Regions from separate parts of the Homo sapiens genome. Here region 1 is linked to region 2. A link means that fine-mapping ties the variant in region 2 to the plasma level of a protein whose gene starts in the linked region. Region 2 holds a variant in brackets. A gene starts in the other region. All regions are shown on their forward strands.

Region 1 (4,391 bases), not on the chromosome of region 2:
GCCCCGACTGTGAAGGTCTGGCCTTTACTCAAAGCAACTGTGGTCCTCAGAACTCCGGGATCATCCCGTTTCTTGCTCCAACCCCTGGGTCCCAGGTCCCCAGCGCGCCCACCCCAGTGCTCCGTGCTTGCTGGTCCCTGGAGGGCCCCCTTACTGGGAACCCTTCCTCCCCGTGAAGGCTGCCGGCGGGACAAACAGTGAGGGGTGAGGCAGGGAGGGAGACTCACGTTGGGGACCTCCCCCAAGTCTGGGTAACACCGTCTTGGCCGCGGCCCGCGGGTTGGGAAGGTAGGGGGCAGTGAGCCGTAGCGGAGAGGCTGGCCCCAGCCCGCCACGCCGCTTCCCCACGCTCGCAGCCACGCGGAGCCGCGTCCTGGTCCAGCCTCACCCACCCAGAGCAAGAGGCGGAGGAACTGGAACAGCGCCCCGGCCCGTGGGCTGCCACTGGCCGCAGCAACGGGACGGGTGAGAGCACCTGCCCCCGACGCGTCTTAACTGCTCTGGTGGGGCGGGGCTGACCGTGCAAGCCCCGCCCCAGTCTAAGCCCCTCCTACAAAGCCCGGCCCCTTACCATAAGCGCCATCTGTCAGGCTCCGCCCACTGTCTTAAATCCCACTCACTCTGCCCTGCCCCTGACTCGGAGCCATATAGCAAGCCCCGCCCATAGCCATAAGCCACGCCCACCCAGCCCTGCCCCTGGGCTCTAAGTGTCATTTATCTAGTCACGTCCCCGGCTAGAAGCCACACCCACCAGGCCCGGCCCCACCTCTAAGCCCCACTCACCCGGCCATGTGGTTTGGGACAGGGAAGTAGGCTAGGGGCCGCCGCCTCTGGGCTCCCAGTGGAAGGGGAGAAATGAGAAAGGAGTTTAGGATGTGATAAATACCCACAGAGGTCAGATGTAGCTATGGATGCAGGCGATAAAAAGTTTAAAGCAATCAGCTGTGCGGCCTCTGCAGCGCTCCTTTCGCCCTCCCTAATCTTCACCTCGTGTCTCCCCCAGTCCCTGTGTCCTGGCTGGGTCCTGCTGCCCCAGGGAAAGAAGACATGCCTTCTCCCATCCTGGCTAACATGGTGAAACCCCGTCTCTACTAAAAATACAAAAAATTAGCCAGGCGTGGTGGCGGGAGCCTGTAGTCCCAGCTACTCGGGAGGCTGAGGCAGGAGAATGGCGTGAACCCGGGAGACGGAGCTTGCAGTGAGCCGAGACAGCGCCACCGCACTCCAGCCTGGGCAAAAGAGCAAGACTCCGTCTCAGAAGAAAAAAAAAAAAGACATGCCTTCTCGGTGAATGTTGCTTTGCTTCCTGAGGGCATGGCTACCCGGGGCTCCTGGCTTTTCTTCCAAAAACAAAACATTTCTTCCATTTTTTCTTTTTCTTTTGTTTTTTTTTTTTTTTTTTTTTTTGAGACAGAGTTTCACTCTTGTCGCCCAGGCTGGAATGCAGTGGCCCAATCTCGGCTCACTGCAACCTCCGCCTCCCGGGTTCAAGCGATTCTCCTGCCTCAGCCTCCTGAGTAGCTGGAATTACAGGTGCCCCCCCACCACACTCGGCTAATTTTTGTAATTTTAGTAGAGATGGGGTTTTGCCATGTTGGCCAGGCTGGTCTCGAACTCCTGACCTCAGAGGATCCGCCTGCCTCGGCCTCCCAAAGTGCTGGTATTACAGGTGTGAGCCACTGTGTCCGGCCACCGTTTTTTTTTCCATTTTTTGAGACAGGGTCTTGCTCTGTTGCCCAGGCTGGAGTGCAGTGGCATGATCACAGCTCACTGCAGCCTCAACCTCCAAGGCTCAAGCAATCCTCACACCTCAGCCTCCTGAGTGGCTGGGACTACAGGTATGCACTACTACGTCAGGCTAATTTTTTAAAAAATTTTTGTAGTGACGCAGGTCTCTCTATATTGCCCGGGGTGGTCTTGAGCTCCTGGGCTCAAGCAATCCTCTGGCCTCGGCCTCCCAAAGTGTTGGGCTTACAGACATGAGCCACCATGCCTGGCCTAGAGAGTTTCTTTCTTGTTGGGGTTGTTCACCGGTGGGAGGTGCACCATTGTGCCGTGCTGACTATATTCATAGAGTTATGTAACCATCACTCTCATCTAATTTCAGAACAAAAGGAAACCCATACCCTCTCACAGTCAGTCCTTCATTCTCCCCTCCCCCCATCCTGTGGCCACCGCTAATTTACTTTCTGTTTCTATGGATTTGCCTGTGATCACAACCAGAGGATTTCTGTGACATGCTAAGTTACCTAACCATGGTGTGGAAGGAGAGGGAAATGGAGTGAAGTTGGGGACCCACCAGGGAACAGGTGGCTTGAGGGCGGGGGGAGCATGAAGGTAAGGGCTTGTTTGGGGGCTCAAGGCAGTCTGAGCCTTGTTCGCAGGCAGCCAGTGTCCACCAGGTGTGTGCAGGTGAGGGAAACAGGGGAAAAGGCCCTTTCTGGAGACAGTAGGGGTGCTGGCTGGGAGGCCTGGGATGGGGAGTGGGGAGGCAAGGGGGCCTGTGGGTCGAGGTTGGAGCTTGCTGTAGAAGAGGGAGAATTCCAGAGGCTGAGAGTGCAGGTGGAGAGGAGGAGGAAGGGAGGAGGGCGGGCAGGGGGTGGCTGGGTGGGGCTCTGTCTATAAAGAGTGAAGCTCAGCGTGTTGGTCCTGCAGATGGGACAGCTTGGCCTACAGCCCGGCGGGCATCAGCTCCCTTGACCCAGTGGATATCGGTGAGTCTTTTCCTTGAACATGACTGAGATGAACAGCTTTTCCCTCCAGCACAACTTGTTCCTACTTTATACAACCTCCTTCCCTTGCCATATGCCTGGGGCTTAAGAGGGGGGATGTTCCCAGTACCCACTCCCCTCCTCTTCCTCAGTCCTTACCACTTCCCTCCACGACCCCAGGTGGCCCCGTTATTCGTCCAGGTGCCCAGGGAGGAGGACCCGCCTGCAGCATGAACCTGTGGCTCCTGGCCTGCCTGGTGGCCGGCTTCCTGGGAGCCTGGGCCCCCGCTGTCCACACCCAAGGTACTGTGTTCGGCAATGCCTACCACCAAGTGCCCCTCTCCCCATGCCCCCACCCCACCCCTTTTGTCTCTTATCTCCTCCGGAAGTCTCCCCAATCCCATCTCCACTGAATTCTCCCGCTCCTGACATGCAGGAACTCCTGGTGTTTGGTTAGCTCTTGGGATGGGGTCGGGGAGATGGAGAGTCCCCAGTTCCTTCTTCGAGAGCCCCATGGAGTCTTTTGCAAGACTCCTAAAGATGTGAGGGAGCAGAGGGTGGCTTCCAGCTGTGGGCAAAGCCAGTTACTGCCAGGGATGTATTGTAGAATCCTAATCCTGCCGAGCCAGGGGTGGGGTTGGAGATCAGGGCCCTGGAGACTGACAAGAGTGGATTCCCATCCTGGTCCCTCCATGCAGTCCAGCTGAGAGTTAGTTGCTCCTAAACCATTTTTTTTTTTTTTTTTTTGAGACAGAGTCTCACTCTGTCACCCTGGCTGGAGTGCAGTGGCGCGATCTTGGCTCACTGCAACCTCCGCCTCCTGGGCTCAAGCGATCCTTCTGCCTCAGCCTCCCAAGTAGCTGGGACTACAGGCGTGTGTACCATGCCCGGCTAATTTTTGTATTTTTTAGTAGAGATGGGGTTTCACTATGTTGGCCAGAGTAGTCTCGATCTCCTGATCTCAGGCGATCCGCCTGCCTCAGCCTCCCAAAGTGCTAGGATTACAGGTTTGAGCCACTGTGCCCGGCTTCCTAAACCTTTAGGAGCCTCCGTTTCCTCAGCTGCAAAGTGGGAATCTAAAATTCCCACTGCATGGCTCTGACTTGAGGGTCCAGTGAGCTCATGCCTGCAAAAGACTAGGCCTCATGTCTGGCGGCGGCAATAGTAACTGTTCCTGTTATTAATAGGGAACTCTTTCCTTCTTCCCCACTCCCTACCGCAGAGCAAGCACTTGAGGATTTCAGTCGCCAAAGGACAATTCCTGGGCCTGGGGTGTCCCCACGGGAGCCCTGACACTGGGTCCTACATCCTCTGAGTTTCAGCAGCTGGCCAAAGCAGGGTCCCTGGCTGGGCGGCAGACCCAGGGTCCCACCCTCCTTCCCTGTCTGCCCCCACCTGACCCACCTGCCCCTCGGCTGGGTCTGATGGGTCCAAGTCCTTGGCCTTTGCCTGGGAAGGGGGTTGGGCTGTGGTCTGATTGTTTTGCTATCAGAGCCAGGCCCAGCCCAGCCCTTCGATCCTGGCCTCCAGCCTTGGGAACTACCTGCCTGGCACTGCAGTCCGAGGTTCCAACAGAATGCGCTGCCCCTTGCCCTCAGAGGCCGCGGTTGGGAGACACCTGGAGGGCTCGAGTCCTCCCTTTCCCTGCTCCTGCTGGGCTGGGCTCTGCAGGGACTCAGA
Region 2 (4,391 bases):
TTGCATTTAGTTGTCATGTTTCCTTAGATGTGAAACAAATTTACCAATTGTAGTAGGGTATTTACGTATAGATCGGTTCGTTTGTAGCCTTATAGTATCTAGTTAAAACACTGTTATAAAGTTATTGTTATGTATCCTTTTGGGTGTGGTTTCTTTCCTTAGAAAAATACATTTAAAATTCATTCATGTTGTTAAATGAATCAATAGGTTGTTTCTCTTTTAAAAATTGAGATGAAATTCACATAACAAAATTAACCATTTTATTTTTTTAATTTTATATATATTTTCTGAGATGGAGTCTCACTCTGTAGCCCAGGCTGGAGTGCAGTGACGCGATCTCGGCTCACTGCAACATCTGCCTCCTGGGTTCAAGCGATTCTCAGCCTTAACCATTTTAAAGTGCACAGTTAAGTGGCATTTAGTACATTCACAGTGTTGGGTAACCATCTTTATCTGGTTCCAAAACATTTTTTTTTCTTTGAAAGAAAACCCCGTATTTATTAAGCATTTTTCTCTCTGTCCTTTTCCCTTCACTCGCTTCTGGCAAACACCAGTCTGCTCTGTTTCTGTGGATTTACCTGTTCTGGATATTTTATACAAATGGAATCATAGCGTATGTAGCCTTTTGTGGCTGGTTTTGTTTTTTTTGTTTGTTTTTTTTTTTGTTTTTTTTTTTTGAGACGGAGTCTTGCTCTGTCGCCCAGGCTGGAGTGCAGTGGCGGGATCTCGGCTCACTGCAAGCTCCACCTGCCGGGTTCACGCCATTCTCCTGCCTCAGCCTCCCAAGTAGCTGGGACTACAGGCGCCCGCCACTACGCCCGGCTCATTTTTTGTATTTTTAGTAGAGACGGGGTTTCACCGTTTTAGCTGGGATGGTCTCGATCTCCTGACCTCGTGATCCGCCCGCCTCGGCCTCCCAAAGTGCTGGGATTACAGGCGTGAGCCACCGCGCCCGGCCTGGTTTTGTTTTAGTAAGATACTTTTGCTGGATTAAGAATAAGGTTGGGCCAGGGGTGGTGGCTCATGCCTATAATCCCAGCACTTTGGGAGGCCGAGTTGGCCCAGCCTGGCCAACACAGTGAAACCCCATCTTTACTAAAAATACAAAAATTAGTCAGGCATGGTGGCGGGTACCTTGTAATCCCAGCTACTTGGAAGGCTGAGGCAGGAGGATTGCTTGAACCCGGGAAGCGGAGTTTGCAGTTAGCCAAGATCATGCCACTGCACTCTAGCCTGGGCGACAAGAGCAAGACTCGTTTCAAAGAAAAAAAAAAGAATACGTAGTTGACAGGTTTTTTTTTCTTTCAATACTTTAAAGATGATATACCACTGTCTTGTCACTCACCTTGTTTCTAACAAGAAATCTGCTATCTTTGTTCTGTATTTTGCATGCTTTTTTTTTCCTTGCTGCTTTTATTATTTTCTCTTTATTACTGGTTTTGAGCATTAGATTATGATATGCCAGTATGGTTTTTCTTGTGTTTATTGTGCTTGTGGTTCATTGATGTTCTTGGATATGTCGGTTTATAGCTTTCTTCAGGTTTCGGATTTTTTTTTTTTTTGGCCATTTTTTTCAAATTATTTTCCATTTAATTTCTCTTTTCTTTTTAGTCAGGTACTCTTTATCCAAACATTAGGCTGCTTGAAGTTGCCCCATAGCTTACTGATAGTTTTTGTTTTAACCTGTGTTTTATTTGAAAGATTCTATTTCTGTGCCTTTGAATTTACTTTCTTTTGCAGTGTGTAATCTGAAGTTAGTCACATTTAGCATTTTTAAAAATCTCACATATTTTACTCTTTTTTTTTTTTTTTTTTTTTTTTTTTTTTTAAAGACTGAGTCTCACTCTGTTGCCTGGGCTGGGGTGCAGTGGCACAATTTCAGCTCACTACAACCTCCGCCTCCTGGTTTCAAGCGATCCTCCCACCTCAGCCTCCCGAGTAGCTGGGACTACAGGCACCCGCCACTACGCCTGGCTCATTTTTGTATTTGTAGTAGAGACGGGGTTTCGCCATGTTGGCCAGGCTGGTCTTGAACTCCTGACCTCAAGTGATCTGCTTGCCTCAGCCTCCCAAATTGATGGGATTACAGGTGTGAGCCACCATGCCCGGCCATATTTTACCTTTTTTTATCGTTAGAATTTTGATTTGGTT[T/TA]AAAAAAAAATCTTTCCTGTCTCTACTTAAGTTTTTGAATATATGAAATGCAGATATAACTCTTATAATGTCCTTGTGTACTCATTCTAACATCTGTGTCATTTCAGGGTTGGTTGCAATTGACTATTCTCTTTAGTATACTTTTTTTTCCTTGCCTCTTGCCTGGTGATCTTTGATTGGATTTCAGACATAGAGAGTTTTACCTCGTTGGGTGCTGGGGATATTTGTATTTCTACATATGTTCTTTAACTTTGTTATTGGATGCAGTTAAGTCACTTGAAAACCGTTGATTCCTTTAGGTCTTGTTTGTAAGATTTGTTAGCTGGGAACGGTGTAGTAGTTGGTTTATGGCTAATTCTTCCTCACTTCTGAGACAAGATTCTTCCCAAATCTTGAGGGTTGTCTTGAGATTTCCAGTCTAATAGCTACTTGAGTGGGTAAGGGCAGAGTACTGTTCATAATTCTTTTGGGTGTTGTTTTCCTCTCCTTGCTGCCCATGGTCTTGGGTAGTTTCATCACACTATGGGCCACTCAGTACTCAGTGAGTACCTCTCTAGATCTCCTCAGCCCTCTACTGTGTGGTATTGTCCCATGAATTCTAGCTGCCTAAGTCCTGCACTCTGAGCTGAGCTCGCTGTCTTCAATTTTGAGTTCTGCAGCCTCCATAGGGCTTCTGCTTCTGCATGGTGCCCAGGAAACTCTCTTCAGGCACTAAGTTTGGCCATCATAGGACTCATATCTTTGTTTCTCTTCCTTTGGGGATTACTGTCTCTCATTGCCTGCTGCGCAGCATCTTGAAAGCTATAGTTTCATGTTTTGTTAGTTATTTTAGTGGTTTAAGGTGAGAGGGTAAATCTGGTCCCTGTTGTGCTTGAAAAGTTTTTTTCAACTTTTCTTTTAGAAATAATTTTAGGTTTACTAAAAGCTGCAGAAATAATACAGAGTTCTGAGGTGTCTTTCACCCACTTCCCCCATGATAACATTTTACATAACCATAGTATAGTTATTAAAACTAGGAAATTGACATTGGTATAATAGTGTTAACTAAACCTCATGCCTTATTTCATATTTTCACATGAACTATTTTGAGCTGGCATGGTTAATATACAGTTCTATGAAGTTTTATCACGTGTATAGATTTCGTGTAATTATCACTAGTCAGGTTATAGAAGTATTCCATCATTTTAATGAAATGCCTTTGTACTACTCCTGTGTAGTCATCATGTCCTCCTTCCAGCCTCCACCACCAATCAACCAACCAACTTTAATCCTGGCAGCTACCAGTTGTCTGAATTTTATCACTTTCGCTATAATTTTATCTTTCTCAGAATGTCATAATACAGTAGTCCCCGTTATCTGTGGTGATATGTTCTAAGACCCCCAGTGGATGCCTGAAACCAGCTATAGTACTGAACCATATATGTGTGTGTGTGTGTGTGTGTGTTTTTTCCCCCCCCCCCTTTTTTTTTTTGAGACGGAGTCTCACTCTCGTCACCCAGACTAGGGTGCAGTGGTGTGATCTTGGCTCACTGCAATCTGCACCTCACAGGTTCAAGCGATTCTTCTGCCTCAGCCTCCTGGGTAACTGGGATTACAGGTTCGTGTTACCACGCAGGCTAATTTTTTGTATTTTTAGTTGAGGTGGGGTTTCACCATGTTGGCCAGGCTGGTCTCGAACTCCTGACCTCAAGTGATCCACCCACCTTAGCCTCCCAAAGTGCTGGGATTACAGGCGTGAGCCACTGCACCTGGCCTACTATACATATACGCCTATGATGAAATTTAATTTATAAATTAGGCACAGTAAGAGATTAACAATAATAAAAAATTATAACAATATACTATAATAAAAGTTATGTGAATGTTGTTTCTCTCTCAAAATACTGTAATATTTTCAGGCTGCAGTTGACCATGCGTAGCTGAAAGCAAGGGTAAGTGGTGACTACTGTAAATAGAATCATATAATATGTTACCTTTGAGATTGGCTTTTCTTTTTTAACTCGGCAAAATGCCTTTGAAATCGATCCAAGTCCTATGTATTAACACTGTTTCTTTTTATTGGTGAGTAGTATTCTATTCTTGGGCACACTACAGTTTACCCATTCTTCCATTGAGAGCATTTCTCCCCCCTAAATTACAAACAGAGATGGAGTCTTGCTTTGTGGTTGGTCTCCAACTCCTAGGCTCAATCTATCCTCCTGCCTCAGCCTCCCAAAGTGCTGGGATTAGAGGCATGTGCC

Direction of the effects. Positions count from the first base shown, and alleles are read on the strand shown. Strength reflects both the effect of a copy and how common the allele is.
With allele T in place of TA in region 2, the plasma level of the protein whose gene starts at base 2,652 in region 1 is lower (weak association).

The links. A credible set is the group of variants that fine-mapping cannot tell apart. PIP is the posterior inclusion probability: the model's chance that the variant is causal. The UK Biobank Pharma Proteomics Project read protein levels with antibody pairs (Olink). The fine-mapping took linkage between variants from a reference panel, not from the people measured, so its PIPs are less certain.
Region 1: CCL25 starts here. The variant in region 2 is the best candidate, but not a certain one, in a credible set for the plasma level of the CCL25 protein (UK Biobank, PIP 0.58).

Annotation. Positions count from the first base shown.
Region 1 is chr19:8,050,109-8,054,499 of GRCh38, forward strand. It overlaps CCL25 (C-C motif chemokine ligand 25), which reads left to right and starts at 2,652. Exons shown (of 6, transcript NM_005624.4): 1 at 2,652-2,714; 2 at 2,892-3,014. The coding sequence starts at 2,942. RefSeq lists silencers at 205-294, 595-654.
Region 2 is chr20:32,397,951-32,402,341 of GRCh38, forward strand. The region is part of intron 4 of ASXL1 (ASXL transcriptional regulator 1); the gene reads left to right. Among named protein-coding and RNA genes, the nearest start is that of ASXL1, 42 kb to the left of the region's middle. The variant T/TA (reference allele first, on the strand shown) is at 2,152.